Linked DNA regions of Homo sapiens. The protein of the gene in region 2 interacts with the protein of the main gene of each other region in a pairwise test. Each region holds a gene or a part of one and is shown on either strand. Other genes may lie near its edges. The genes, in order: UPK1B, PIK3IP1, SLC35A1 and MFSD11.

Region 1 (8,094 bases), on a different chromosome or scaffold from region 2:
CTAATTTTATTTTTTGTAGAGATGAGGTCTCACTGTGTTGCCCAGGCTTCACTTTTTGACAACCATATTGTAGGTTTTCAGGATCTACAATGCACAAATGTGCTGCTATAGCTGTGAAGACTAACAAAATTAGGGAAGTCACTATAAGCTTGTTAATAGTAGAAATTAACTAGAATTTCACACAGCATGTCAGATGCAAATATATATATATTCTATGTTATGGTTTATGTGACTCAGAAATGCTATGTGCAAATTGTGATCACTATACCTCAAAAATGTTATAATAAAATGAAGGAAGATCAAGTAAAGTACCACTAAATTGACTAGCATCACGAAAAGGCACTAAATGATGGTGAAAAAAATGGGGCTTCTGTCTGTGAGCTTCATGAAGGCAAGGCCCATTTCTGTTTGCCACAGCTAAATGCCCAGCCAGTACTTGGCACCTGGCATAAGTGGGCCCTTATATATATATTATTAGATGAACGACCACCTCCCAGGATTGTTGGGAGGACCAAGGAGTAGCAGATATGGGAGTGTTTTGTGAACCATCAAGTGTGTTGCAAATTATACTATTGTAAACATTAATGTTCCATTCATTCTGTAAATGTTTATTACGTGTCTACTATGTGCCAAGCACTTGTTCTAGGTTCTAGAAATTCAACAGTGAACAACATAAAATCCCTGCCCTCATGGAGCTTGCATTCTAGCATGGGAGACAGAAAATAAACATGTTACCAAACAAATACATGATAAAATTCCAGGCCCAAATAGGCCATGAGCAGAAATAAGGCAGGGTGAGTATATAGAGTAGGATGGAGAAAGGGTCTTTTTCTCTGTCACTGTCAGGAAAGGCTTTGTTGAGATGATATTTGCAGAGGTTTGAATTAAGTGAGAAAATGAGACACCGGAAGATTGGGGAGGAAAGTTCTACAAGAAAGGAGTTGTGAGTGCAAAGGCCCTTAAGTGGGAGCAGGCCCAGCTTTTTGAAGGAGCATAAAGGAGATCAGTATGACAAAGTCAGAATGAGTGAAGGATGAGTAGATGACAAGGATGGAGCTAGATTTTTTGTGGCTGGAGTCCCCCACCCCCACCCTCACACACAAATTATAGGGAAGGATCCTTCTTAGGAAAAACAATAAAAATATGCATACAAAATTAGGCACAGGGCCTTGAAAGGGTCTTGCAAGTAAGGGGCCCTGAAGCTTAAGCTCATTCGCTTTATAGAGAAACCTCCTCTGGTAGTGGAAGATGGGGTGAGAGGCAGAGCCGCATGGTCCATGGAACCAGCCCTGGTTATTGCATTTCCTAGGCATTCCCTTTGGTTCCCAGAGCTTTGGTAGAGGCTGCTCAGATGGCAGCTCTAGCCTTACATGCGTGTATCACTCCAGAACTTTGCACAGTGACTAGGATAGAGTGCGCCATGTATAAATACTTACTGGATTGTGGCATGCATGAATGGATGATTTGGTGAATAAAAAAATTATTCCTTTGCATGCTCACTGTGACCCTTCAAGGTCTCACTAGAATCCAGTAAAGATATGTTGAAATATAACATCAAATGAGAATTCAGGGAGCATAATGCAGGAGTTCCTTTAATGATTATTAAAAATGGCAACAGGGGACCTCTGGTTTTCATGGACAGAAGCATTTTTATTCAAAAACAAACAAATCAAAAAGTAACTGCCTCCAAATAAATCACCAACGAAGCCTTTGGGGAGGGAAAAATTCTAATTGAATTAAGATTTTTGAATTTATTGTCCACATATTCAGTATAGAAAGAGGGTTATGCTAAAATAGCAGTACTTTTTAGTGAGATTAAGTGATAAAGACACAAATAAATGTGTTGTGGAATCATTGTTCAACAGTATTGTTTATGTTCCCTTAGTAAAGCACTATTAGTAGCTGGCTGTCCTCAGAGATGTGGAAATAGCCTGGATATGTGAAATCAGAATTTTGAGTAGCATTGATTCCAATAGGAACCTGCTTTCCCATCAATCTCTTCTCTGCTTTCTGGTTCTTCTCACACTAATGTGGAATTGCCCACTCCTTCAGGGCTGCTATGAACTGATCTCTGGTCCAATGAACCGACACGCCTGGGGGGTTGCCTGGTTTGGATTTGCCATTCTCTGCTGGACTGTGAGTATTTCCCAGCACATATTTTATCTGAGAGGATGATCATACGGAGAGACCTTGAGAGTGCCACTGGTTACCTCAACCACACTAGAAAGTCTAGAAACAAAACCTCAGGCCTGAAGGCTAGTCAGGAAACTTCTGGCACCGGAAGAAGGACAGTGGGTTCTCTTGAGAGGCAAGGAGTTAACTTCCCCTACCAGGGAAAGGCTGTGCCCTGCCAACCAGCTCCTTCTTCCGGCTGATGGGCAGCTGCCTTTAGAGGGCTGGAGAGCCTCTTTCCCTTGCCAGAGTTCTTAGTGAACTGCTCCTCCTGGTCTCCAGATCTCATTAATTCATTTCATCCACATATCAAAGACTGTCACCTATCTAGATGGCCCCTGCCTGATACTAATATGCCCAGATCCTTCTAAAGAGCTGCCTCTGGCAGATTCATCCTTTCCTACTGCCCACTTTATCTGACGCATATGCAGCAAGAGGTTGGAGCGGTGGTTCTCAGCCCTGGCTACACATTAAAACGCCATGGGGAAACTTTTTTTAAAAATTGCTTGGATCCCAACCTCTGAGACTTCGATTTAGTTGACCTGGGGGTTGAGCCAAGGCACTTTTATTTCCCCCAGATGATCTGCTGTCAGGGTTGACAACCATTGCCTTAGAGAAGCAGTCACAAACTTTTGATTTCAGAACCCCTTTACACTCTCAAAAATTATTGAGGACTCCAGAAAGCTTTTCTCTATGTGGCCTATATCTATTGGCATTTACCCCATTGGAAATTAACATAGAAAAATTTAAAATATTTATTTTAAAATAATAAGCCCATTAAAAGTTATCACAACACATTTTTGTGGAAAAACAACTATTTTATAATAGTGACTTTTTTGCAAATCTCTTCAATGACTAGCTAAATAGAAGACAGTTAGATTCTCATATTTGCACCTTCATTCAATCTGTTGTAATATGTTGCCTAGGTTGAATGATCTGGAGAAAATGCATCCTTCATATAGACATGTAATTAAAAAAATAGTGCTTTAATAATATTCACCCAGTAGCTGGGACCACAGGTGCACACCATTGTGCCTGGCTAATTTTTTTATTTCTTGTAGAGACAGGATCTTACTTTGTTGCCTAGGTTGGTCTTGAACTCCTGGCCTCAAGCAATCCTCCCACCCTGGCCTCCCAAAACACTGGGATTATGGCCATGAGCACTGCACCCAGCCCACAAGTAGTAGCTTCTTAAAGATCAGTTGCAATTTGGAATCTGAAATTCTGTTAATGAGCTTTTCATACTCTGTTATGTTAAAATATATTACATTGGTTTGTCTTGCACTTTGCATATATCTTTCAGCCATTTATAATTCTATAACATCATAGATTGCTTATTTGGAAAAAATATTAGTTCATTGTGTTATGCAGATCTTCCAAATGTTAACTGATTTATGTATGCAATATCCAGAAAATCACATGTGGCATTGATATTGCCACATGGAAAATACCTTAAGCAATGGAATGCTATCAAGTTCACGGTGACAACTACAAGTTTTCCAAGGTTCTGATTTTTGCTTGAAAGTTCAAATTTATCATTGGCAATGAATATTGTCAGTTGTTTTCCTTGAAGTGACAGACTCACTTTGTAAATTTTCAAGAAAATATCTGCCACATGTCCAAGTCCAAACAACCATAGCGTGTCTGTTCATCATTTTTTAAAGTAAAAGTGGTGTTTCCTTTTAATCATGCAAGTGCTTTTAAGACAACCATATTACACTATGCAACAGACTGTTTTATGAATGAATACTTCCTTTCTGTCATGCAGAATATTTAAAAAGATGTGTACTCAAAGGCCAAAATGTAATAAAATTAGTAGTTCTTACTGCTTCATTGAGGACAATCTCAAGTGAAACTGGCTTTTTAAATTTTTTTTTTTTACTGCAAGTGCGTAGCAGTGAAGACACAATGATCACTAACAAAGTTTAGTGACTCTGCCTTGATTCTTGCTAATACTCCAGGAGTTTTACTTCCCACTGCATTTACACCATCAGTGCAAATATGAAAACAGTGAAAAAGGCAAATAAATTCTCATTGTTATTCAGATAGCCTTACATAATGGACTTCTGAACTGTCCCTCAGGTGTTTACTATGTGTATTAGTCCATTTTCATAGTGCTATGAAGAAATACCCAAAACTGCATAATTTATAAAGCAAAAGAGGTTTAATAGACTTACAGTTCCACATGGCTGGGGAGGACTCACAATCATGGCAGAAGGCGAAGTAGGAGCAAAGGCATGTCTTACATGACGGCAGGCAACACAGCGTGTGCAGGGGAACTGCCCTTTATAAAGCCATCAGATCTCATGAGACTTATTCCCTATCACGAGAACGGCACAGAAAAAAACCCGGTCGCATGATTCAATTATTTCCCATCGAGTCCCTCCCATGACATGTGGGGATTATAGGAGCTACAATTCAAGATGAGATTTGAGTGGGGACACAGCTAAACCATATCACTATGCTTTAAGAAATGCTAGCTTAGGGGGTGATAAACTGAGTGAGGCAGGAAGGAGAGGGAAATCAACTCCTTCAAGGGGTCTTTTATGATCCCTCAACCCAACCTGTTAGGAGCTCTCACAACATCCTGAGCACACCTCTATGATGGAACTTCTCCATGATGATGTATTTGACTGCAAAAAGCTGAGAACTAGCTGTTCTTTGTACCCCCAGTGCCAAGCATAGCATGTAGTAAGGGCTCAAGCATTTGTTGAATGAATGAAAGGTAACAGTGAAGTTTCTATTTGTGCCATATTAGCAGGAACTGTGGGATAATGTTTAAAGGCTTTGAGTATCTTAGAACTCCAAACCAGTTGTAACCCTTGATTTTCCACAAGTATCAAATAAACTCTAGATCTAGTTAATTCCCTCTTGAAATTCAAAAGAGGGAAGGGAAGGGAAGGGAATTAAATGATTAAATGTATTGAGGGCCTGCTATAAACAAGGTACCATGTCAAATATTTTTAATATTAAATCCCCACAACAGTAGCTAAGCAGGTAGCCAGTGTCCTGTCTTACAAGGAGCAGAGAAATTCAGTGGGGCTCTCAAGAATTGTGCTTAATAAGAGCTCTTAAGCATGCCCATTTCACTGTTGCTTGCAAGGGGCTTTTTCTTAGTGATTAACTAGATAAGCTCTGAAGCTGACTGCTTGGGTTTGAATCCCACCTCCACCACCTACTAGTTCTATGACCTTGGGTAAGTTACTTCTCTGTGCCTCCGTTTCTCCATAGGGTTTTGGAAGCATTAACTTCAGTTATATGGGTAACACTTAGAATAGTGAGTGATGCATAATAAGGTATTCTAATAAACATTAGACCCTGTTATTATTTCATTATCTCATTCACTGCTCTAGCTTGGGGTAGGTAGAGATGTTATATTTATTTTATAAATGTAGAAACTGAAGCTCAGGAAATTTAAGTGACTTGGCTAAAGTTACCCAGGAGTAAGTACCAGATCTAAAACAGAGCCCAAATAAACTAAAATAAAACTCAGCCCTTGCCTAAGTCAGATATCTTGAGTTCTGTGGCATTCTTCAGAGGCAGCCATTCCAGGGCACAAGCATTTTAGGAAAAAATAGAAGTTCCCTGGGAGAAGTTTAATACTAGAAGCAAGGAATGCTTACCCCGAAATGGTACATACTAGAAACAGGAAGGCATTGGAGGATAAGTGGCCTTGATGGCAAAAAGAGTTTAGCACAGACGAGAAGGGCAACCCCAGAAGACAAGGAATCTAGGATGAGAACTGGGATCAGAACGTGGGGAACACAGAAGTTGCTTCTGAGTGGCAGGTAATAAGTGATGCTTTGGAGCAGGATGGATTTGGTGTCACATCTGGCCCAGTGATGTTGCTTATAACGAGATTACTCTTAAAAATCTGATATCTAGGCCAGGCGTGGTGGCTCACGCCTGTAATCCCAGCACTTTGGGAGGCCGAGACGGGCAAATCACGAGGTCAGGAGATCGAGACCATCCTGGCTAACACGGTGAAACCCCGTCTCTACTAAAAATACAAAAATTAGCCGGGCATGGTGGCGCGTGCCTGTAGTCCCAGCTACACAGGAGGCTGAGGCAGGAGAATGGCGTGAACCCGGGAGGCGGAGCTTGCAGTGAGTCAAGATCGCGCCACTGCACTCCAGCCTGGGCGACAGAGCGAAACTCCGTCTCAAAAAAAAAAAAAAAAAAAAAAAAAAAATCTGATATCTAACAAAGACATGGAACCAACCCAAATGCCCATCAGCAATAGACTGGATAAAGAAAATGTGGTCCATGCACACTATGGAATACTATGCAGCCATAAAAAGGAATGAGATCATGTTTTTGCAGGGACATGGATGAAGCTGGAAGTCATCATCCTCAGCAAACTAACACAGGAACAGGAAGCCAGACACTGCATGTTCCCTCTCATAAGTGGGAGTTGAACAATGAGAACACATGGACAAAGGGAGGGGAACAACACACACCAGGGCCTGCTGAGGGGTGAGGAGTGAGGAGAAGGGAACTTAGAGGATGGGTCAACAGGTGCAGCAAACCACCATGGCACACGTACATCTGTGTAACAAACCTGCACGTTCTGTACATGTATCCTGTTTTTGTTTTGGTTTTTTAGAAGAAATAAAAACAAACAAACAAAAAAATCTGTTGTCACCTAAGCCTGAATGAACCTAACATCCACTTTTTCCAAGAATGAGATGTTTCTAAAACAATCCCTTGTTTATTTTTCCTTGTTTTTTTCTATTCCAGTTTTGGGTTCTCCTGGGTACCATGTTCTACTGGAGCAGAATTGAATATTAAGCATAAAGTGTTGCCACCATACCTCCTTCCCCGAGTGACTCTGGATTTGGTGCTGGAACCAGCTCTCTCCTAATATTCCACGTTTGTGCCCCACACTAACGTGTGTGTCTTACATTGCCAAGTCAGATGGTACGGACTTCCTTTAGGATCTCAGGCTTCTGCAGTTCTCATGACTCCTACTTTTCATCCTAGTCTAGCATTCTGCAACATTTATATAGACTGTTGAAAGGAGAATTTGAAAAATGCATAATAACTACTTCCATCCCTGCTTATTTTTAATTTGGGAAAATAAATACATTCGAAGGAACCTGTGTTATCACAGTAACCCAGAGCTGTATTTGGCTAGCAATCTGCCTGTATCTCTCACTATTATCTAAAAGAAACCTTCCAATGCTTCTGTTGATCTCAGTATTGTCAGGGGAACAGAGAAGTTGGGAAAAGATTACTGAAATATACCTTTTGCATTTCTTTCTAGAGTAGCTCCCATATATGGAGATGGGTGATTCTCTTGATGCCACCTTCAGATCCTTTTATTCTCCAGAATAATTCTTAACAGTGGTTCAAATTTCCTTTCATACCTTGAAGTATGTGTTTAGTAGCCTCAATTCTCCATTAATTAAAAGTGTGGGCTGGGCGTGGGGGCTCATGCCTGTAATCCCAGCACTTTGGGAGGCCGAGGTGGGCAGATCACCTGAGGTCAGGAGTTCAAGACCAGCCTGGCCAACATGGTGAAACCCCGTCTCTACAAAAATACAAAAATTAGCCAGGCGTGATGGCAGGTGCCTGTAATCCTAGCTACTTGGCAGGCTAACGCAGGAGAATCACTTGACCGGGAGACAGAGGTTGCAGTGAGCTGAGATCGTACCTATTGCACTCCATCCTGGATGAAAGAGCCAGACTCTGTCTCAAAACAAACAAAAAAGCGTGGGGACTTCTGGGGACAGACAAGGTGCCTGTTATATATTTACTCAGTCTTTGCCCTGAATGGTCTCAGCTTGAGACCATTTCAAACTGGAGAGAAGCAAGCCAGCCAATAGAATGGGGTGATTTACAGGGATTTCTGTTTACTGTCAAAATATTTCTCATCTGCACTATGTTTCCATTTGTGGTCCTGAAGGAAATTCTTATAAC
Region 2 (8,094 bases):
CCCTGCTGAGCTGCTAGCACAGTGCAGTGGAGAAATGTTGCGCTCCGTCAGGAAGCTGGGCTCTTGCCATGCCAGTAGCTTGCTTACGACCTTGGGCAAGTCACTTTTTCCTCTCTGGGGTCCTGTGTCCAAAAGGCTTAATGAGCCCTTTCTAATGGTTCTTTGATTGCTTTATGAGTTAGGGGCTGTGACCCTAGCCCCAGTGCCCTACAGGAAGGTGCTGACCTGGACGCCCGCAGGACCACCTGCTAAATCAGGCCCACTTGGGGAGCAAGCCCTGAAGTGCTTTATTACCTTGCCTCTGAGCTTAGTTTCCAGGTTAGCCTCTTAGAAGCAGCTCACAAGGCCCCACAGTATAATTCCCATAGGTTAGCTAACTACTCTCTTACCTGTGCAAAATGAAGACAGGTCACTATCCATCCCTGAAGAGAAACTGGGGCATCCCAGGTCTGCCTCTGCTCCTGTGGCCAAAGGCGGAGCAGATCCTTCTCTATCCTCTTCCTAAGTGGAATGCTCAGTGCAATTCTTCCTTTCCTTATGAAACAGGAAGAGTCCCTGGGCCCAGGCCTGGCCCACGGTTGTCAAGGCACATCATTGCCAGCAAGCTGAAGCATACCAGCAGCCACAACCTAGATCTCATTCCCAACCCAAAGTTCTGACTTCTGTACAAACTCGTTTCCAGTTCTCAGAGGTCAGTAGGGAGTTCCATCCCAAATATTTTAAAAACTAAATATATTTTTTCAATGCCATCCCTTGACCTGCTTTACCTTAACCATGAATAACAGTGTATGCCACTCAAGCCCACAGTGGAGACTGAGGCCATCTTAGTAAAGCACAGAGGAGCCTGGGGGAGCTCCCCGTCTATCCCTGGTTCAGTTCCAGGGGTGCAGGCAATGTTTGGAAGCCCTTAGCAGCAGCATCACTGTGGGAGCTGCCACTGTCTCCATCCACAGACAAAATCTGCTCCAAGGGATGGACAAGGAGCACTGTTAGGACCCTACCCAGCCTTACCCTCAGCCCACAGGGCCACCTGCTTCTGTCACTCTTACTAGGATTCGCCAAAAAAGCGGGGGAGTGGTAGGGTTTTAACCAGAACACAAAGTGGTAGTTCCTCCTAGCTGTAGGAGGGTGGGCTGTCCTGCACCAGTGTCTGCATGGGCTCCTGCCCACTGGGGGGGCTCAGGCCCCAGGAGTCCCGGCCTGGCCCATAAGGGGGGTGGTGCCCTCCTGAGGGTCAACTGGAGTCTGGCTGGTGTGGACCACGACAGTCTTCTCATCCACAATCTCACAGGTGGGGTTGGTGAAGGCAGACAAGGGCAGAGTGATTCGCTGCATCTCCCTCTCACATACTTTCTGATCATGCTGTTCTTTCAAATCCTTCCCCCTGGCAGGAAAAAAACAAACAAACATTCAGGCTATGCCTCCTGCATAGCTTTGCTCATTAGATAGCATCCCTGAGGCTCAGCAAGAGCAGCAGCTTGCCATTGTCACAACAAATCAGTGGCTGAGCCAGGACCCAAACTCAGGTCCAGGATTCTAGGATATCCATTCTGCAAGACGGCGTTAAACTCAACAAGAAGCTCCTGCACCTCTGGTCTTAGGTTCTCCATCTGTAAAATAGGGTGACAGCAGTATGGACTTCATACAGCTTCACCGGGGCTCAATGAAAATAAAGTAAAGGACAGAGACTTTTTTTTTTTTTTTATGGTTGAGACAGGGTCTCAACATGTTGCCTAGGCTGGTCTCAAACTACTGGGCTCAAGCGATCCTCCCACCCCCCAAAGTACTGGGATTACAGGCGTGAGCCACTGCACCTGGCCAGATAGAGACTCTTAAAGCAAGACACAGTTTTGTTCTTTCAGCCCCAGAGACCCAGAGAACTATCTGAACTTCGGACCTAACCCATAAAGTTGTCCAGAAAACTGACCTGATCATCCTGCTGTGAGACAGCCTCCCAGAGATGCTTATTACTTTTAATAAGCATCTACTAAATGTCAGCTACAGGCTTTTTTTTTTGGAGATGGAGTTTCGTGCTTTTTGCCCAGGCTGGAGTACAATGGCACAATCTCGGCTCACTGCAACCTCTGCCTCTCAGGTTCAAGCGATTCTCCTGCCTCAGCCTCCCAAGTAGCCAGGATTACAGGCATGCGCCACCACGCCCAGAGTATTTTGTATTTTTAGTAGAGATGGGGTTTCTCCATGGTGGTCAGGCTGGTCTCGAACTCCCGATCTCAGGTGATCCACCCGCCTCAGCATCCCAAAGTGCTGGGATTACAGGCGTGAGCCACCACACCCAGCCTAATCCCTGTTTTATAGATGAAGAAACTGAGGCTTTTGAGTTTAACTTCCGCGCCTTGCTTTCCTCAGCAACCTCCTTTACCTGTGGCCAGCTGAGCTGCTGCTAATGGCCAGGCTGCATCATATACAAGTCTTTAGGGGAAAAAAATCAATTTGTATTAATGAGGCAGAGCAGGGCTGGAAGAGCAGTCAAGGGTAAAGAAAGCAGATGCTGGCACTAGTCTGGATTAGTCTCATCCATTTGGAAGCCTGGAAGCACACTCAATCCCATGTGCCTGCTGTTAATGGTGCCTGTGAGTCCTAGAGATGCAGTGGCTGCTCCCAGCTCCCTTGGGTGACCTTTGAGAGGCCACTAGGCCTGCTACACTGACCATCAGGCAGCCTAGCCCCTTCTCACTGCTTGGGGGTAGGGGGTGGTTAGCCTGGGTGTTGTGTGGCAGCCAAGAAAGAACAAAAGGCTTGTTCACTGACTTAGTTCCTCTCCTAAGGGAGTGGAGTGGTGTTGACTTACAGTTTTTCCCTCCCCTTTTTATCAGAAAATAAGACCTCCCTCTGAAGCTAGTGCAGACAGTACACTTAGCTCCTCAGTCACAGACTGGCCATTTGAACCTCGTGGCCTAGACTACCAGGACAAAGACCCGGCCAGGCTGAGCTCCCACCCACCCCCATTTACAGCCCTCCCTCCCTAAGAGGAAGCCTGGTGCCTGCCCACCCATCCCAGCCAGGGAAAAGCTCCATCCCATTAGGCAAGCCTCATGGCCTTTGGCAGAGCTCAAGGCTTACAGTACCTACCCTGACTGCTTGCTCCAAGGCCAGGGTGGGACTGGGAGCTGAGCTGGCCAGAGAGAGCAGGTGTAGAGGAAGCTGCTGCCTACCTCCAACTTCCTCTCCCAGAGTATGGAAGCACCACAGACCTCATTCAGACTACACAGGTCGTCTTCAATTATTACTCTGAGCCGCTGCTATTTTCCCAGTCAGAGGCAGTGCTGTGCCACACTGCTGCTCAGGAAAAGTTCCCAAGGCAGCTACAGGTAATAATCACAAGAGCAGCCAACATTTATTTCCTGCTTTCTTAATAAGTAAGGCCCTACTGTATGCTGCCTCCAACTTCCTCTCCCAGGCTATAGAACACCAATTGTATGCCTAAACTATACTGTCCAATTTCATCCTCACAACCTATGTGGTATCTATTTTGATCTGTTTCATAGATAGGAAGGCAGATGCAGAGAAGTTACACTATTTGTTCAAGCAAATGGCAGAGCTGGGATTTGAACCCAGTCTTAGCACCGGCAATATTGTCTTTTTAGGAAATAGAGTTGGGAGTATCACCATATCTAACCCCCTTACAGTACAGATGAAGAAATTGAGGTCCAGAGAAGGTAAATAACTTGTCCAGTGTCACATCCAGAATAGGTGAAAGTTCCAGAACTAGATCTTGTTTCTTCTGACTTTAAACCCAGCCTTTTTTTAAATTTCTATTTTTCCTACTTTCCTTTGCAATTCAAAGCAAATTTACATGAGGCTACTTGGCCTCACTGGACTTGCTGGAGATACTAATACTCCTCAGACATACATTACTAGCTGTGTAGCCTGGCCATTGTACTTAACTCTGCTAGGTCTCAGCTCCTCACTGTAAAATCTAACAGTGCTCCTAGTGTGGTTGTGAGGCTTAGTCAAGGTAATCAGGAGGCTGGGTGCAGTGGCTCATGCCTATAATCCCAACACTTTGGGAGGCCGAGGCGGGTGGATTGCCTGAGGTTAGAAGTTCAAGACCAGCCTGGCCAACATGGTGAAACCCCGTCTCTACTAAAAATACAAAAATTAGCAGGACATGGTGGCGGGTGCCTCTAATCCCAGCTACTCGGGAGGCTGAGGCAGGAGAATCACTTGAACCCAGGAGGCGGCGGTTGCAGTGAGCCGACACAGCGAGACTCTGTCTCAAAAAAAAAAAAATTAAGAAAAAAAGATAATCAGGGAAGAGCATACAGTAGGGCCTTACTTATTAAGAAAGCATGAAATAAATGTTGGCTGCTATTGTGATTATTACCTGATTGGTGTGCTATTGTTTCTGTTTACATTTAATACTTATAATCTTAGATGGGTAGATGTGGAGGGAGGATATATCCCCATTTAACAGACAAGATACCAAGGCTCAGAGGGCACCTGAACCCACACTCAACCTACAGCTCTTTTCAGGACACTCTGCTCTCTGACTTTAGGAAGAGATGAAGGCTGCAAGCTTGTTTTTAAGCCCACATGCGGTTTCCTGTTGTACAGTCTGTTCTCAGAGCAGTTCTGCTGAAGAAAGGGGTGATCTGGTCGTTAGTGACGGGGAGTCTGATGACTGGGTGCCTTGCCCTGAGTTTACAGGAAAATAAATTTTAGGCCTCAGGGCAGTCTCGTGACAGCCTAGAGGAACAAATCTAGAAGAAAAAAGACTTCCACTGGACACCAGAACTGAGCTCAGAATTAAGAATGTTTAGTCAGTTCAAGCACCTGGAAGGCCTGGAAACTGTCACAGGATTGCAGGACAGCCAAATGCTGTTGGGTGGCTGAGGAAAAAGGAGATAGTTCAAGGACTAAACTCAGCCAATGTGGCTTAGGTCTGCTTATGAATTGTAAGGCCAGGGCCACTATGTCATTAACTCTGAAATGAACAAGCAGGTGTCCCTGGACCTGCATGTCAAGCATCCCATTGTGGGAAACAACCTCAGACTGGGCGTCAGGATGTCCTCTCAAGTCAATACTTTCCCTCTCTGGACCTCTGCTTCCTGCATCATAAGAAATCAGAGAGTACTAGTCCATTACCCACTTTTTTTTTTTTTTTTTTTTTTTTGAGACAGCATCTCACTCTGTCACCCAGGCTGGAGTGCAGTGGCACAATCATGGCTCACCATAGCGACTTCCCAGGCTCAGGTGATCCTCCCATCTCAGCCTCCTTAGTAACTAGGACTACAGGCGCCCACCACCATGCCTGGCTAATTTTTGTATTTTTTTGTAGAGACAGGGTTTTGCCATGTTGCCCATGCTGGTCTCGAACTCTTGGGCTCAAGCGATCCACCCACCTCTGCCTCCCAAAGTGCTAGGATTACAGGTGTGAGCCACTACGCCTGGTCCATTACCTACATTTTTTTTTTTTTTTTTTTGAGACGGAGTATGGCTCTGTCGCCCAGGCTGGAGTGCAGTGGCACAATCTCGGCTCACTGCAACCTCAGCCTCCCAGGTTCAAGCGATTCTCCTGCCTCAGCCTCCCAAGTAGCCGGGATTACAAGTGCCCGCCACCACGCCTGGCTAATTTTTTGTATTTTTAGTAGAGACAGGATTTCACTATGTTGGCCAGGCTGGTCTCGAACTCCTGACCTCATGATCTGCCCGCCTCGGCCTCCCAAAGTGCTAGGATTACAGGTGTGAGCCACCACGCCCAGCCACACATTTTATAGAAAAGAAAAACAGCCATCATTTACTGACCACCTACTATGTGCCACACCCTGAGCTAAGTAGTCAAAAGCCATAGCTCCACACCATGATGTGGAGTAGGAAATTGAAGCAATTTGCCCAGGGTCACAGAGATAGCTAGTTAAAGGACTTCTCTCCACCAAATGCTAGGTGTGTAACCTCAGGTAACGTATATAATCCCCTCTTGCCTCAGTTTCCTCATCTGTAAATTGGAGATGACAGCATTTACCTCATAAGGGTGATTATGAGTTAAAGCATGTGCTTCAAGCAGTGTCTGGCATACGGTACATGTTTGCTACTGCTGTTATTATTATACCCAAACTTCCCCTTTTTCATCTGTAATGAGGAGGTTGACTACAAGGCCTTTAAAGATGCCCTGCTGGGTGATCCACTGAGGCTGTGGGCTCAGACATGGCCCTCATCACTGGAAAATGCAGGCTGCATGCCAGGCATGGTGGTTCATGCCTATACACTTTGGGAGGCTGAGGTAGGAGGACTGCTTGAGCCCAGGAGTTTGAGACTAGCCTGGGCAACACAGTGAGACCCTGTCTCTATAAAAAAATTAAAAATCAGCCAGGCATGGTGGGACATGCCTGTAGTCCCAGCTACTCAGTGGGGGTGGGTGGGGGTAATTACTTGCGCCCTGGGAGGTTGAGGCTGCAGTGAGCCGTGATCGCACCACTGCACTCAAGCCTAGGCAATAGAGCGAGACCCTGAAAAAAAAAAATCAAAGAAAGGAAGGAAAGAAAGGGGAAGGAAGGAAGGGAGGGAGGGAGGGAGGAAAGGAAGGAAAAATGCAGGCTACTGTGTCACTTTCCTCACAGGAAGTTTTCTCAGACCACAGAGGAGAATATTACAGACACCCAGGGCTAGAAGTCAAATCCCCCGATTTTGCCCAAGAATGGCAAATAATTTTCCACAATCAGCCAGTGCTGTAAAGATGAATGCCAGTCTGGCTTACCATCATGCACCAGTCACTGACGGACATCTCGTGGGACCTTTCAAAATAAGCATTCTTCTCCTGCTGTCCCAGCCACAGGTCATGTCCTTGAGTTTCACAAGTAGCCTCTTTGGCTTTCTCACACGTGGTGAAGAGTGGCAAACAGACTTTCTGTTCTCCAACTCACTTTTTTCTTCCCTAGCAGAGGAGATCCCACTGCTTATAGCTCAGGAAATTTAAGCCTCAACTGCAACAGTGGCTGGAAACCTTTTCTAGTAGCAGAATTTTATAACTCACAGAAAGAATTTGGTCTTAAGGTCCCTGCAATCAGTGTCAAGCCTGATTTCTGCAGTGCCACTCACTTCAATGCCAGGCATGTGGGATCAGACAGCAGGGAATTTGCTATCAAAAGAGCTGGGTCTGAATCCAGGTTCTGCCACTCCTAGGCTATGTGACTTTGAGCAAGTCTCTGACAGAGGCTTCTTCATTTGTAAAATGCGGAACAAGAACATCCCTCACAAGGCTTTTAAGTGAGGTGTAAAGGCACCAAAGGAAAGGGTTTGTCCAAGGTCAGCAGATAAAGACTAGGACCAAGTCTCTACATCTTGAGCTGATTTTCAACATCTTGCTTCCTTTTGGGTAAGAAAGCCACAAAGTTTGACTTTGTGTACCTTCCTCCCCTCCTCCTAAGAGGGCCCAGAAGAGAAGCTACTGACCTCTTGTAGGAGTAGCCCAAGATGATGCCAGCTCCGATGGCAATGATGATCACCATCATGGTAATGCCCAGCACGTAGCCTGCCAAGGATAGGACACAAGGTCCCATTAGCCACACCCTAGACAATCAGCAAATGACATCTCTTGATGAATCCCAACGAGGGCAGGGGTGGGGGACCGTCATACCCAGAGTTCCCAGGTCCTTTTTCTCCTTGGAGTTCATCCGCACCCGCTGGCTGATCCCAATCACTGGCTGCACAGCTGCCGCCTCACTCCGAGCGGGCAGGGCGTTGGCAGGAGCGAACACCTGCACCTCATCTGCACCTGGCCCTTCAGACGCTTCCTGGATTTCTGTCGTGAAGGCTGGCAGGGCCTGGGAGGTGGTCTCTGGAGATGAGGTGGGAAACAGCTCTCATCAGGGACTGCCCTGAGTGAATTCCACAGCTGAACCTGGCCTGAGTGTTAGGGTAGATGAAGGTGGGTCACCTAAGAATTTCCCCCCACACACAACCCAAAGTCAAATTCTGCCCCAGAGGTAAGATCAGGCCTGAGAGGGCTGAACCATCTCAGGGACAAGGCAAATGAGAGAGGAAGGCCGTAGGGAAGGGCTTCTCTCCTACCTCCCACGTCTTTATCTGTCCAAATCCTTGCTATTTCCCAAGGCCCCTCTCGGTTGCGTTCTTCTG
Region 3 (8,094 bases), on a different chromosome or scaffold from region 2:
CAAAAACTTAGCTGGGCGTGGTGGCAGGCGCCTGTAATCCTAGCTACTCAGGAGGCTGAGGCAGGAGAATCGCTTGAACCTGGGAGGCAGAGGTTGCAGTGAGCCGAGATCGCGCCACTGCACACCAGCTCGAGTGATAGTGCGAGACTCTGTTTCAATAATAATAATAATAACAATAATATGCAAGTCTGTCACATTTTTTGCCAAACATTATCTCTATGGAATTCCCCTCATCACTTAACATTAGGAGTCCTTTCAGTAAGGAAATCTGGTATGTTTCACACTTGGTGAAGTCACACTATTTTCCACTGATGACCATTAAGCTTTTTAAGTACAAGTCATCTCTAAATCTGTTCTAACATTTTGCTGGTAATCAATGTAACAATAACAGCTGCAATCATTTATAATGCACTAAATACTAGCATTATCTAAATGCTTTATATACACTAACTCACCTACTTTTCTTGATAGTCTTTTAAATTTATTTAGCTAGGTAGTCTAGGCGGGGAGAATTGCTTGAGCCCAGGAGTTCAAGACCAGCCTGGGTAATATAGTGAGACCATGTCTCTACAAAAAAATTTAAAACTTAGCTAGATGTGGTGATGCATGCCTGTAGTCCCAGCTACTTGGGAAGCTGAGGTGGGAGGATCACTTGAGCCGAGGAGGTTGAGGCTGTAGTGAACCATGATTATACCACAAGATCCTGTCTCAAAAAGAAAAAAAAAAAAAAAAGCTTTCTTTAATGCCTTACAGGATTTTTTGCAAGCCTCCACTTATTCTGAGTTTTCGATTTCTTGATACTATTCTTAAATTCCTGGTTAGATTCCTCTTGGTGATCTGTACTTCGGCTTTGTTCTTGTAAAATCAGAATTCAGTGAAGATGCCCTTATTTAGATATGTTGATTTCCTTATGTATTCTTTTTTTTACTTTTCACCAGAACCTCCTTCTTCAGTAACTCTTAATCTCTCTTGAATGTTCTTCTCACGAGCCATGGAATTCTAACTTGAAGTTTTACATTTTTGAGTTTTGATTTATTCAGGACTGGAGCACATGTCTCTTAACTGTGCTGTGTTTGGCTCATGCTCAGATCACATGGTTGCTTTCTGCCAAAGTTCCCATCACATCTACTTCATCACCCAGCAGTTTCTTGTCAGAATCAAGTCCAGATAAGCTGTTTCCATCACTATTTTTCCTAACTGTAGAGACATTCAACTGGCAGGAAACTAAGTCAAGAATTTATCAGGCACTCTATTTTTAGCAGTTGGAGCTTCCCAGCAGATGTTGGGATAGGTGGTATCTCACACTATGATTTTATTCTATCTATGCCAGTCTTGAAATTTGTATTATAGGAAAGTATACTTGTTAATAATGTATAGTCTATAGCAGTGGTTCTCAAACTTTAGCGTACATCAGAATCAACTGGAAGGTTGGTTGAAACAGATTGCTAGGCCCATTCCCATAGTTTATGGTTCAGTAGGTCTGGGGTAGAGCCTGACAGTTTTTATTTCTAACAAACCCCCAGTGGTGCCACTGCTGCTGATCCAGGGTCCATACTTTGAGAACCACTGGTCTACAGTGTCTTCTGTTTCTCCTTTTATCTTCATGCAAACAATTTAGACCAAGCTTGCTCTCTCAGGTACCATAAAGTGGCACTTTTCTTATATCAGGCTTATTTATTTTGAACAAGGTATATACTTCCTTGTCATATTACAGTCATGAATCTCAACCCTCTAATTTCAGTGATACTATTGAGATAGTATTTATCTTTCAGGAAAGACTGATGAAAGCTCCTGACAGTTTAGAAAAGAAAGAGAAAATAAAGTGAAACAGAGGGTTAGGACCCATATACTTGGATCTGTGAGCACTGGTCTCACACTATTTTGGTTATATATACTTGTCAATTTTGCCTATACATAACAGAGCTGTGTATTGTAATCTTCTTTATTCATTTAGTATGTATCTTAGTCCATTTTCTGCTGCTATAACAGAATACGCAGAGTGGGTAACTCATAAAAAACAGAAGTTTATTTGGCCCATGGTTCTGGAGGCTGGGAAGTCCAGAACACGGTGCTGGCATCTGGTGAGGCTCATTCTATGGCAGAAGGCAGAAGCGATCCCATGTGACAGAGGGAAGTGGGCTGAACTCATCCTTTTTATCAGAAACCTGCTCCCTCAATAACTAACTCATTCCCTCAGTAATGGCATCAATCCCTTCTTGAGGACAGAGCCTTCATGACCTAATCATCTCTTAAATGCCCACCTCTTAATACTGTTAGAACGGCAATTAAATCTCAACATGTGTTTTGAAGTTGACATTCAAACCACAGCAGTGTGTATAGACAATGTATCTGGTACACAGAAGGTATACTAAAAATTCAATAAATTGGGGAGTCTTAAGAGGCAGCACTGTATCCTGTAGGTGATGAGGAATAAATAAGTTAAATTGTTATCATTTTCAGGATTGATGCTATAAGCTCTTAAATTAGAGTGATAATAGAAATTAAAATTAAGTAGTATGCTGACTTGGCCTGTTCAAAAGTTCATGCTAGAGTGCTTATTGGTATTAGGAAACAGTGGGCACATATTATATTAAGCATATACTATGGCTGTGATTTGAGGGACACATTTTTCACTTAAGCCAAGTGCCCTGGTTAATTTCTGGAATGGTCTTTTTGTTTAGTTGTCTTATTCTGTAGAATAGCTGTGTCTGATGTGGAATATACTTTTAGTAAGACTGTAACAGGTTTTTGTATTTATTTGTTTGGACTCTTGGATGAACTCTGTTTATTAGTCACTAAAAATAACTTTAACAATTAATATTGCAGGTGGAACAAAATCCATTATTAGGGTTTGGCGCTATAGCTATTGCTGTATTGTGCTCAGGATTTGCAGGTAAATCATGAAAGCATTGTTTTATTCTTTTGTCATATTTTTCGAAAACATCAAACTTTAGACACCAGTCTAGTTTATCTTGCTTTCTCAGTTTTATTCCCATTAAACTTGATCTTCTTGCTTATATTTAGTTTTATGTCAGCTGTTTTTCCAGTAAATGTATAGCATTGTTCAACTAAGTTCAGACTCAGTCCCTATTCATACTTGCAGTTAACTACTTCTGTTATCCTTGACCATCTCAGTCCGGCCAAAAACCCAAAAGTAAATGAAAAAAGACTTCTGAAAATGGAGGAAATTAGTCTTCAGAAAGCCCTTTCCTTTTTTCTGGAACTGCCACTATCAAGTCAGATCCTGCTGCTTTAGGTTGTTAATGTTACCAGCTAAGTATCTTTTTTTCCCCTATAACCTCAAGTTCTTTCTCTGCTTTAACAGGTTAGGAGCTATGGAGTAGGATCATGAGGTGGGTCGAGAGTACCTTAGAAAACATAATACATAAAGCTAATAACCAAACAGGGAGGAAAGACAACACAAAATCACTAACATCAACAATCCACGGAAGTCTGGCGTTGTATGTGTAGGGACAAGCACTCCTCCAATGCATCAAGATAAGAAAGTATGAATATTAAGTGTAACATAAAAAAAGTTTTAGAAATAGTTCCAGCAGAGATTTAGTTTTTAATATATTCTGCTTAAAGCTTTTAGTAGAATATATTAGTTATAGCTATACATCTTTATTATTTATTTGTACCTATTTCAAGTCAGGACTATTTTTGACTAGGAAAGCAGGCTGAATACAGAAGTAAAATACTGCTTGTAAATAAGATGTTTTATACGAGGGGAAAATTTAAATTCAGGAATATACTTACTGATAGCATTGTGTTCTAGAAACCAACAAATTGGGAACAAAAATTGAGTTACCTAAAAAATATGCTATTTGATTTTTTGCAATATTTTGAACAGTTAAATGATTATGTCCAACATTTTATTAGTTCACTCTCTTAATACACAATTGAGGAAATGGAGGGTGGTTTAATATCTCTCTGTGTTTACGGTAACTGAGCACTGGATAAATGCTTCTCCCAGAAGGTAAAATCAGAGGTGAAAATAAGAATAGCTATTTTATGTTCCCATTCCAACAGACTCATCAAAAATAATCTTGTTTTTCGTTAGACTTTTTAGTTGATAAGTACTTCATTGGCAGTTCCTAAGTCTCTAGCATGATATTTATAACTAAAATCTTTAATGGCTTTGTAAAATATGCATTCATTTTAAGCATAAATCCAGAGATAGGGGACTTTTGTTGGGGAGGGGTATCATGTACTCCTTTGAAGTATCTGAAAAAATCTATGGACCTTCAACTCCAGAAAAATGCACATATACACAAAATTTATTATCCAGTTGGGGAGTTCATGATCCTTCTGACCTTGTGTATGAACTTGGCTTGTGGAACCCTGCTTTAAAGGAAAATGGCTTTACACAGCAAATTCTACTTCAGTTTTGGTTGTTACTCTGAAAAGATTCCTAGTGGTGATTATAGATTATATTGCAGAATTAGGAGTATTCATTAGTAGGCAGATATTACAGGGATGTGATTAAGATAATTCACTCTTAATGTAGTTTTTCAGCTGACCAAAGCAAATGACATACTGGCATTAAGTAGTACAGAGAGCTTTTGTGGTCTTACTGCTCTAATAAAGGCAGAAACTGTCTTAATTTAACAGCCTTCTGTTAAATGTAGCTTATAAACTTCCCAATTAGTTATTATTCTATATACTCTGTAAAAACATAAATTTATAATGTACAGTATGTCATGTGTCACACAACCTACATAATAAATGCACATTTAAGTAAAGTATGTTTTGTTCCCCAAATCATATACTTTATATATCTCTAGGGTATTGTTCTAAATGAAAGACATTTTAAGTTAATTTATAGTAATCTTTAATATTTGCATGTCTAATTTTCTTTCAGGAGTATATTTTGAAAAAGTTTTAAAGAGTTCAGATACTTCTCTTTGGGTGAGAAACATTCAAATGTATCTATCAGGGATTATTGTGACATTAGCTGGCGTCTACTTGTCAGATGGAGCTGAAATTAAAGAAAAAGGATTTTTCTATGGTTACACATATTATGTCTGGTTTGTCATCTGTAAGTATCCAGGAATTAAAGGTTCTTAGTAGATCCTTTATTTTTTTTTTAAGTTAGATGTCCATTTTAAGCTGTTATAACATTTTGAAATTAATCCTTTGATACTGTAAATACCAGTTTGAATATAATTTTCATTTTGTTGACTTAGTTTTGATTGTGAAGGCAAAATTGCTTTGGGATAGCAATGCCCCAAAATATCTAACATTAGCAAAAAATGTGTAAAATTTAATAGACCACATAGCCCTCTGGGCATTGTTTTGGAAAAACAGTGTTATATAGGAACTACCAATTTTAGTACAAACTCTCAGATGGCTCCTTCTAAGGAAAACAGTATTTTCCTTTTCCTAGGTAAAGTATGGCATCTCTGGGGATGAAAATTGCCTCACCATTATGTAATGTTTCATTTATTTGAGTGATAAGATTTTATTTCTCTCTGTATACAAGTTCTTGCAAGTGTTGGTGGCCTCTACACTTCTGTTGTGGTTAAGTACACAGACAACATCATGAAAGGCTTTTCTGCAGCAGCGGCCATTGTCCTTTCCACCATTGCTTCAGTAATGCTGTTTGGATTACAGATAAGTATGTCTTAGTTTGTGTTGAGTTTTTAACATGGAAGAGCCTCCCATTTCCTTGATTCATTTAATCCCTTATTTAAAAGTGGCAGTTGGTCATACTGTTTACAGAAATTCCTAGCTTTGTTACTACAGTTTATTCCACCAGTACAGCTGTTCATAGTTGTGTGGGATGTGGCTAAGCAGTACTTTGGTTGTTTAGGTGGTCTTAGAGGTTAAGACGAGGGGTGCTAGTTCTATGTGAAAGTGAGGGGACTTTTTTTGCAGTCAAGGCCTCCCTGTATTTTTAGGTATTGTATATAGGACAACTTGAGTGTCTGAATGTGAGAAGGTACTCAAGGAAATACATATAAAGACTTTAGGAAATTATTTTCAGCAGTCAGTTTAAACTATATTGGCTCATTATTTAGAAGAATGTAGAAAACATCTTTTAGTCCTCCCTCAGCTTGTACTTTCCAACTGCTTTGCATTTGGGTGTGAGACGGTTTTGAAAACAATCAAAATCTAGATTTTGTCTTTTGTATCTTTGTTTCATTCAATATGTAATTAATACAAAACTCATTAATATAGCTGGCATTCCAGTACCACTGCTTTGTTAGTCCTAATATAATTTTCCCAACTCTCACACCCAGCATTAATTTGGCTTCTAAATTATTTAAGCAATGATATTGACTTAACATTTCAGGGTGCTTTTATAGTGTAATAATTTTCTTTACTGATCAATTATTATAATATAAACCAATGTATGAAGAATATCTGTTAAATATATTAAGTAAAAGAGACCTGGCTTATATTTACATTTCATTTTAAAATTGACTCCTGTATATAAATGGAAATAGTGTTGTAGAAATTTTAGAAAACCATGTATAGTCTGTGGCAAATCTTGCCTGTACCATTTCTTAACTGTGCAGCCTTGGGGAAGTTATATTCCCTGGGTGACACTTTCTTCATCTGTAAAATGGGAATAATATCACCTATTGCCTAGTGGTGTTTTCAGGTGAAGTGCTTAGAGTAGTGTTTGACACTACTTACCAACCACTTACCATTTCAGTATCAGGTACTTATAGGCTTTCCCTTAGATGTTTTTCTACCTGATTTGGGTGAACTTTTAGCTGTAATTCTGATCTATCTTTATGTTCAACAAAATCCTTATACCATTGCTCATAAGAAATATATAGGAACAGTAGAAAATGCTTTTGTTTAATGTTCTTACTGATGGTCAACTAGCATGTCTTAGCAATCTTTCAGTTAACTGTTTAGATACAAGTTTTTATCCTACCTTCTCCTTTTTTGAAGGCAAAGCTGGTCTTTTTTAGTTAGGAGTGAACTAAAATAAAGCTTGATGTCATATAAATATATTTATTTGTCAAGTTAGGACAAGTTATGATTTGGTTTCTTGCATCCTGATTTTTAAGATTAAAATGAAAAAAGGTGCCGGGCATGGTGGCTCATGTCTGTAATCCCAGCACTTTGGGAGGCTGAGGCGGGTGATAACCTGAGGTTGGGGACCAGCCTGACCAACGTGGAGAAATCCTGTCTCTACTAAAAATACAAAATTGGCTGGGCACGGTGGCGCATGCTCCTCCCGGCTACTCGAGAGGCTGAGGAAGGAGAATTGCTTGGACCTGGGAGGCAGAGGTTGCGGTGAGCCGAGATTGCGCCATTGCACTCCAGCCTGGGCAACAAAAGCGAAACTCCGTCTCAAAAAAAAAAAAGATGAAAAAAGGGTTAAGACTAGTAGGAAATGTAGTTTTATTCAGTAAATTATCGCCTCATCTCCGATTAAGAAATTATCAATGGTTTGAATGATTGGTCACCTGTCTTTTACTCTAAACTTTCACAGGTTCCTGGTTGTCACGGAAAAGCCAATCCTACCACATTTTCTTTTGTACTTATATATATTTATACTTACATTTAAAAAAAATTATATATTTTATAGGGAAATTAGTTATGTTCTTTGTCAGAGTGGTCAGATAGTGTCAGTTAGGCATACTCATGTTCTAAAAAGTCTGTAATCAGTGATCAACAAAACACTGCCTTGATTTTACCCGCCCTGCCTCCCCCTCTCCTTTTTTTTGGCTGTAATGGAAGACCTTTCTAAACCTTGCCATCATAAAAATATGATCTGATAGTGTAAACCCACAATTAAGAGTTTTCAAAATTTTAAACTGATCATTAGGCATTTTAAAGACACACATACAGATAAAGCTATTTTTTTTTTTCTTTTCAGCACTCACCTTTGCCCTGGGTACTCTTCTTGTATGTGTTTCCATATATCTCTATGGATTACCCAGACAAGACACTACATCCATCCAACAAGGAGAAACAGCTTCAAAGGAGAGAGTTATTGGTGTGTGATTTTAGCCTCACGTGAGACTCCTTTTAAGACTAAACCATTTGCATTAAACTAGAGCCTTAAGTCAATCTCAGAAGGTAGCATAAACAAATAAAAATTAACTGTATGGCATGATCAGTGCGGTT
Region 4 (8,094 bases), on a different chromosome or scaffold from region 2:
GGTGGGTGGATCACCTGGGGTCAGGAGTTCGAGACCAGCCTGGCCAAAATGGTGAAACCCCGTCTCTACTAAAAATACATAAATTACCCGGGTGTGGTGGTGCATGCCTGTAATCCCAGCTACTTGGGAGGCTGAGGCAAGGAGAATTGCTTGAACCTGGGAGGCAGAGGTTGCAGTGAGTTGAGATAGCGCCACTGCACTCCAGCCTGGGCAACAGAGCAAGACTCTCTCTCAAAAAAAAAAAAAAAAAAGAATGTTCCTGTTTCTTTGGAAAGCTACTAACAAGGTTAATGAGCATGTTAGTCTTCACTGTTACAAAGTTATGTTAATTATCACCTCTGCCCATCTCCGCCTGCATGGAGAGTGATAGGTTTTAACATAAGGATATCTGTTCATTTGAGTTGTATACTTTTACCTGAAATATATGGCAGATGCCGTCTTGTGGTATCTTAATTTTAGCTGCTATAACAAATTTCCATAGACTGTGTGGCTTAAACAACAGACACTTATTTCTCACAGTTCTGGAGGCTGGGAAGTCTGAGAGCAGGATGCCACCATGCGCAGCTTGTGGTGTGGGCTGTTCCTGGTTGTAGACAGCTGCCTTCTTGCTGTGTCCTCCCATGGCAGAGAGCAGACAGGAAGCAAGCTTTTTGTTGTCTCTATTTATAAGGGCACTAATCACATCGAGAGGGCTCCACCCTCATGGCCTAATTGCCTCCAAAAGGCCCCATCTCCAAATACCATCATGTTTTGGGGAATTTGAGTTTCAATATGTGAATCTGGGGAGGACACAAACATTTAGTCCATAGCATGAAGCTAATTCCATTTCATCAGTTACATCACATTATGCTCTGCTTGGGGATTAATATTTCAGTCTCTGTGAGTTTTATGTGTTTTACTACGCAAGTATTCTTTCGTCAGATACTACTAGATGGGAAGATAAACAAAAATGTGAATATATAAATGACATCTGTTTTTTTTCTTTAACTAAAGGTCTGGAATTAACTTTCTTCTCTGGTGTATATGGAACCTGTATTGGTGCTACAAATAAATTTGGAGCAGAAGAGAAAAGCCTTATTGGACTTTCTGGCATTTTCATCGGCATTGGAGAAATTTTAGGTTGGTTTTAAAAAAAAGCGTTTGCATTAAAAATATCAGTTTATTATAGGTAAAATAGAAATTTTAAGTGTGCTTCACCTTTGTCCTTGAATTTCTGTTTTTTCTACTTATTTTTACCCAAACGTGTGTTTTTATTTTTCTATTATTGCTATTCTTTTTCTTTTTTTTTTTTTTTTTCCAGACAGAGTCTCGCTCTGTCGCCGAGGCTAGAGTTGGAGTGCAGTGGTGCGATCTCAGCTCACTGCAAGCTCCGCCTCCCGGGTTCACGCCATTCTTCTGCCTCAGCCTCCCGAGTAGCTGGGACTACAGGCGCCCGCCACTATGCCCGGCTAATTTTTTTGTATTTTTAGTAGAGACGGGGTTTCACCGCATTAGCCAGGATGGTCTCGATCTCCTGACCTCATGATCCGCCCACCTCGGCCTCCCAAAGTGCTGGGATTACAGGTGTGAGCCACCATGCCCGGCCTATTATTGCTATTCTAATATAACTAAATTATAAAACATTTGCAAAATAATTCACAGATGGAAACCCTGTGTAAGAAAACATACAATGTCTCCCGACTTTTCCTCCTAAAATATTTAGAAAGTCTTGGAATTCCTGACTCTGGTTCTCTGATTCCCTGTCACCAACTGGGTGTCCAACAGCTCAATCCTGTTCTAACACTTAACTCTCCAAAGTTAGTGTCAGATTCCACAGGTTTAAGGGTTCAGTCCTACAGACAGACAGTCTGGGTCCATAGGCCTCTCAGGCACACCTCTCTGACTTGGGTACAAATTTGGAGGTTCCCATAGCCCTCTTCCCCCTTCATGTTTGATAATTTGCTAGAGCAACTCACAGAACTCAGGAAAATGCTCTCCTGACTATTAGAGTTTATTATAAAGGATACAGATGAGCAGCCTGATGAGGAGGTGCAAAGGGTGGGGTCTGAAAGGGTCCCTAAGTGCAGGAGCCTCTGTCTCCATGGATTTTGGGCTCACCACTCCAGAAGCTCCTCCAACCCTGTTTAGGGGGATTTATGGAGATCCTGTTACATAGGCATGCTTGATTAAATCATTGGCCACATGGCCGGGTGCAGTGGCTCATTCACTTTGGGAGGCCGAGGTGGGAGGATCACTTGAGCCCAGGAGTTCGAGATCAGCCTGGACAACATAAGGAGACCCTGTCTCTAACAACAACAAAAAAACAATCATTGGCCATTGGTGATTGATTTAATCTCCAGCCTTCCCTCCCTGAAGTGGGAGTGAAAGGGGCCTGGAAGTTCTAGCCCTCAGGGCTTGGTCTTTCTGGGAACCAGCCTCATCCTGAAGCTCTATCCTAGGCCAACCCCTCTCTCCCCAAGGGTTGCCCCCTTAGCGTAAACTTCAGTATGGTTGAAAGTGGCTCTTTCTGAATAACTAATGTCCCTCGTATCACTGAGGAAATTCCAGGCCTTTTAGGATTTCTGTGCCAAGAACTAGCAGCAAAGACCAAATATGTATTTTTATTATGCTCCACGAGTTATTCTTTGTTCAACAAAGATTTGTTCAGCACTTGCAGTATATTGAATATTGTGTTAGATATGAGGAACTTCAACAAAGGTTTATTGTAATCTGTCATGTCAACAAAATAGACAAAAATACCTGCCCATATAGAGCTTATATTCTTGAGGAAGAATACAGACAATAAAAACAGAAATCTTTGTATGTCAGGCAGTGGTAAGCACCATGGGTAAAGCGGACTTTGGAGGGTTTGTTTGTTTTTGCTTTTTGGCCCCTGCCTTATTGCCAACACCTGGAGCAGGACAAGGTCTATATTGGGCATCCAATAAATGAGTTAAATGTGTTGAATGAATAATGAGAACATGGTTTCAGCAGAACTTAGTAACCAGTTGCGTGGTGGTGTGAGGAGAGATGTCTAGAATGATGACCAGGTTGATCAGAGTAACCTGGGCAGAGAGAATGCTGTAGGAGATGGGGTTTGAGGAAATCTGCTGAATGGGATTTTGAACACCTCTAAGTACCAGAGAGGCACCCAAGTAGAGAAGTGTCCAGTGGGAAATGCAGGCTGATGCTCAGGAGGGACTCGTGGGCTGGAGGTTGATGTTGGGAGTTATGGGTATGTAAATGGCGGGCGAAGCTTAGCCATGGTGAGTCAGTGCAGGGTTGTCTTCTCTGGTAAGTGCTTGTTTAGTGTCTGCCTGTAGACTACCTGGGAAGAAACTCACTTTCTGTAGGCAACCTGCTTTTTTGAAAAAAATAATTTCAAATTGATAAGAAATTGCGAAAATAGGCCAGGCACAGTGCTCACGCCTATAATTCTAGCACTTTGGGGAGCTGAGGTGGGCAGATCGCTTGAGTTCAGGAGTTTGAGACCAGCCTGGGCAACATGGCAAAACCCCATCTCTACAAAAAAAGTACAAAAAAATTAGCCAGGTGTAGTGGCGTATGCCTGTCGTCCCAGCTACTTGGGAGGCTGAAGTGGGAGGTTGCAGTGAATCCAGATCACACCACTGCACTCCAGCCTGGGCCACAGAGCAAGATTCTGTCTCAAAAAAACCAAAAAACCAAAACAAAAAAAGAAATTGCAAAAATAAAAATAGTACAATGAACATCTGAATATCCTTTAACAGGATTCATCTATTGTTAACGCTCTACCTTAGTAACTTTTTTTTTTTTTTTTTTTTAAGGACAGAGTCTTGCTCTGTTGCCCAGGCTGGGGTGCAGTGGCTCGATCTTGGCTCACTGCAACCTTCGCTGCTGGGATTCAAGCAATTCTTCTGCCTCAGCCTCCCAAGTAGCTGGGACTACAGGCAACCGCTACCACGCCTGGCTAATTTTTGTATTTTTAGTAGAGATGGGGTTTCACCATGTTGGCCAGGCTGGTCTCAATCTCCTGACCTCTTGATCCACCCACCTCGGCCTCCCAAAGTGCTGGAATTACAGGCATGAGCCACTGCACCTGGCCCTCCTGTCAGTATTTTTGAGCTTTGTTCTTAGATGTAGTTCATTTAATTGAAAACAGCATACCTTTTAAGATTTGTTGGGCAGGACTGGAGCATTACTCAGTCTAGGGCTAATTATTTCCTGCTTCTAAGGGAAGACCCTTCTGTGTGCTCCACCCAGTTCCTGTGAATCATAAGCTTTTAAGTGGCTGGTGGGACCAGACACTATACCCAGCTGAGGGCGGGGCCCTAATACCACTAATCCTCTTGGCTGGTTCTTTCCCAGACTTCTGCTAATTTGCTCACTTTATGTACTGATCAGTCCTCAGCTGAAGACTCAGGGGGACTGTCTGCAGCTCTCTGGAATTGTTTTTCTGTGTAGCTTTCCTTTCTGATACCGTTGTCTGTGAACTCTGGTCACCCTGATATCCCTAGAGTCACATCCCCGTCTCTTCAATCCATGGGGGCTGCTGGCCTCCGCCTGGGTTCTTTCTCCCTCTGCTGCCTACTCTTGAGAGGAACTGCCAGATATTTTCCAGAGTGGCTGTACCAGCAATGTGTGAGTGATTCCGTTTTTCTGAATCCTTGCCAGCACTTGGTGTTATCACTGTTTTTGATGTTAGCGATTGTGATAGATGTGTAGTCATGTTTCATTGTGGTTTTACTTTGTCTTTAATGGGTAATGATGTTGAGCATCTTTTCATGTGTGTATTTACCCTCTTTATATCTTCTTTGGTGACGTGTATGTGCATATCTTTTGCCCATTTTCTAGGCAGGGTTTTTTTGTTTTGTTTTGTTTTTACTGTTAACCTTCACTTTTTAAATTTTTTTTTTCCAGACGGAGTCTCGCTCAGTTGCCAGGCGGAGTGCAGTGGCGCAATCTTGGCTCATTGCAACCTCCACCTCCTGGGTTCAAGCGATTCTCCTGCTTCAGCCTCCTGAGTAGCTGGGACTACAGGCGCACGCCACCACGCCCAGCTAATTTTTGTATTTTTAGTAGAGACAGGGTTTCACCATGTTGGTCAGGATGGTCTTGATCTCTTGACCTCGTGATCTGCCCACCTTGACCTCCCAAAGTGCTGGGATTACAGGCGTGAGCCACCATGCCCAGCAACTTTCTAAATTTTTTTAAATTATTTTTTTATTTTTTTGAGACAGAGTCTTGCTCTGTCACCCGTGCTGGAGTGCAATGACATGATCTTGGTTCACTGCAACATCTGCCCCCTGGGTTCAAGTGATTCTCCTGCCTCTGCCTCTTAAGTAGCTGGGACTACAGGCATGTGCCACCACACCTGGCTAATTTTTGTATTTTTACTAGAGACAGGGTTTCACCATGTTGGCCAGGCTGGTCTCGAACTCCTGACCTCGGGTGATCTGCCCGCCTTGGCCTCCCAAAGGGCTGGGATTACAGGTGTAAGCCACTGTACCTGGCCCACTTTTTAAAAAATATATATACAATTTTTTCTTTCTTTTTTTAAAAAAGACAGCGTCTTGCTATGTTGCTGAGGCTGGTTTGGAACTCCTGGCCTCAAGCAATTCTCCCACCTTGGCCTCCCAAAGTGCTGGGATTACAGGCATGAGACCCTGCACCCAGCCATCCTTCACTTTTGATATATAGGTTTGCTGGTATCGATTTCTGGGGTAGAAATCACTTAAAAATTATAAAGGTCTTCTTCCTTTCAGTTACAGAGTTCTCCTCTTCTCACTCTTGAGGATTCTCCTCTCAGCTTTTGAGATATCCTAGCTGTTCTGGCTGCTGACTCTTCCTAGGCCTCTCTGACTCCCCTTCGGAGCTCACACATAATTCTCAGAATCCATAGTGACTGCCTTTCAGTGTGATACCTTGGCTTGTTTGGCTATGATTGCAACAAAAACGTGGTCATAATGACAAGTTGTGTCCTTATTTTATTTCTGTTATAAGCTACAGGTCAAAGGGGATAGCTTGTGGGGTACAATAATTCACAGAGAAGAAATACAAGAATGTTCCTGGATAGAAATGCAAGTCATTTTGATACCTTACTTTTTTGTTCTAATAGTTGATGCTTGGTCATCATTATCATTGTCTGCAAGTGCTGAGGTGTTGGGTTTTTTGAAGAAATTTAACAAGTGAGAATGTTTATTCCTTGGCTCCTTGGTGGTAACTCAGGCCTGGGTATGTGATGTTTCGGCAACATTAGTGACGTTTCTGCCATCTTGACTTATAGGTGGAAGCCTCTTCGGCCTGCTGAGCAAGAACAATCGTTTTGGTAGAAATCCAGTTGTGCTGTTGGGCATCCTGGTGCACTTCATAGCTTTTTATCTAATATTTCTCAACATGCCTGGAGATGCCCCGATTGCTCCTGTTAAAGGAACTGACAGCAGTGCTTACATCAAATCCAGGTATAGTGGCTGTCATTTCTCTAGTCGCTTGAGTACGGGTGGGAGGTAACGGATGGCTAGATACTGAAAGTGGAGCAGTTAATCCTCTTCAGAGAGCCTGGTGTCTCTCTAAGGTCATCTGTCAAGTGTTCATGGAGTCAGACTGAGTTTAAATAGGAATCCTTAGAGAATCCTAAGTTATTTTTGTAATAGTTGGTTTTAACCTTTTCCCCCACTAAATCTTTTTCTTGATCCTTGAAGGAGCACGTAAGTATCTGATTTGAATTTTTTATCTCTGCTTCTTAAGCAGTGAAATATCCAGACATTAGGGCCTGGAGGAAGAACAAAGAGGAGCGAGGGAGAACCTGGCAACCGGGGAGGCCATTCAGTCCTTCCAGAGCAGTTTATATAACGTTTGAGGATATCGGTTTAGTGCACTCAACTCTCAAGTTCATTATAAACGCAGACATTTATGTCCAGCTCCACAAATCCAAGGGGAGCCCAGCCCAAAAAACTATACAAACTGAGTATATCGCATCTGAAAATCTGAAACTTTTCAAGGGCCAACATGATGCTCAAAGGGAAGTGTTATTAGAACATTTCAGGTTACAGATTTTCAGATTAAAAATACCTAACTGGTCAGTGTAATGCAGATGTTCCAAAATCTGAAAAGAAAATTTGAAACACTTCTGGTCTTGATAAGGGATACTCAACCTGCATTTTCTTCACAAATGGTTGAGACCAGAGTTTGTTAGAATGTAAAGGTGTGTGCATTTGAGCAAAAATTCTTACTTTGTAAATTCTAGTCTTTATGTTTTATTTTTATTTATTTATTTATTTATTTTGAGACAGAGTCTCACTCTGTCTGCCAGCCTAGAATGCAAGTGGCGTGATCTCCGCTCACTGCAACCTCCACCTCCGGGGTTCAAGTGATTCTCGTGTCTCAGCCTCCCGAGTAGCTGGGATTACAGGCACGCGCCACTATGCCCAGCTAATTTTTATATTTTTAGTAGAGATGGGGTTTTGCCATGTTGGCCAGGCTGGTCTCAAACTCCTGTCTTCAAGTGATCTGCCCACCTCAGCCTCCCAAAGTGCTGGGATTCCAGGTGTGAGCCACCGCACCAGCTTTGTCTTTATTTTTGTTTCATAGTGTTTACAACTTGCAGGTAGAATTCTTTTGTGGGTGGGTTGCTTGTATATTTTAAATGGCTCTAGCAGATATTGCTCATACTAAATTGATTTTTATTTTCTTCAGCAAAGAAGTTGCCATTCTCTGCAGTTTTCTGTTGGGCCTTGGAGACAGCTGCTTTAATACCCAGCTGCTTAGTATCTTGGGCTTTCTGTATTCTGAAGACAGCGCCCCAGCATTTGCCATCTTCAAGTTTGTTCAGGTAACCTCTTCAGATTGTGATTGTGTTTGACATAGGGCTCTTCCCTTTGTGTATTGCCTTGTTTTCCTTGGTTACTTGTATTGTGGTTTTAATTTTTATTTATTTATTTTTATTTTTTTGATAGAGTCTCTCTCTGTCACTCAGGCTGGAGTGCAGTAGCGCAATCTTGACTCGCTGCAACCTCCGCCTCCCGGGTTCAAGCAATTCTCCTGCCTTAGCCTCCTGAGTAGCTGAGATTACAGGTGCACACCACCATGCCTGGCTAATTTTTGTATTTTTTTTTTCTTTTTAGCAGAGGCAGGGTT

What was found.
Region 1: the proteins of PIK3IP1 (region 2) and UPK1B interact in binary tests that used the Homo sapiens proteins (3 or more experiments, as listed by UniProt).
Region 3: the proteins of PIK3IP1 (region 2) and SLC35A1 interact in binary tests that used the Homo sapiens proteins (3 or more experiments, as listed by UniProt).
Region 4: the proteins of PIK3IP1 (region 2) and MFSD11 interact in binary tests that used the Homo sapiens proteins (3 or more experiments, as listed by UniProt).

Annotation. Positions count from the first base shown.
Region 1 is NC_000003.12:119,197,005-119,205,098, forward strand, and holds part of UPK1B (uroplakin-1b), read left to right. Parts: intron 1-2,052; coding exon 2,053-2,136; intron 2,137-6,912; coding exon 6,913-6,963; 3' UTR 6,964-8,094. UniProt on the Homo sapiens protein: Component of the asymmetric unit membrane (AUM); a highly specialized biomembrane elaborated by terminally differentiated urothelial cells.
Region 2 is NC_000022.11:31,281,905-31,289,998, forward strand, and holds part of PIK3IP1 (phosphoinositide-3-kinase-interacting protein 1 isoform 1 precursor), read right to left. Parts: intron 7,796-8,094; coding exon 7,595-7,795; intron 7,490-7,594; coding exon 7,411-7,489; intron 1,385-7,410; coding exon 1,180-1,384; 3' UTR 1-1,179. UniProt on the Homo sapiens protein: Negative regulator of hepatic phosphatidylinositol 3-kinase (PI3K) activity.
Region 3 is NC_000006.12:87,503,556-87,511,649, forward strand, and holds part of SLC35A1 (CMP-sialic acid transporter), read left to right. Parts: intron 1-2,826; coding exon 2,827-2,893; intron 2,894-4,864; coding exon 4,865-5,041; intron 5,042-5,485; coding exon 5,486-5,620; intron 5,621-7,843; coding exon 7,844-7,971; 3' UTR 7,972-8,094. UniProt on the Homo sapiens protein: Transports CMP-sialic acid from the cytosol into the Golgi apparatus, functioning as an antiporter that exchanges CMP-sialic acid for CMP. Binds both CMP-sialic acid and free CMP, but has higher affinity for free CMP.
Region 4 is NC_000017.11:76,768,753-76,776,846, forward strand, and holds part of MFSD11 (UNC93-like protein MFSD11), read left to right. Parts: intron 1-993; coding exon 994-1,119; intron 1,120-6,244; coding exon 6,245-6,419; intron 6,420-7,653; coding exon 7,654-7,789; intron 7,790-8,094.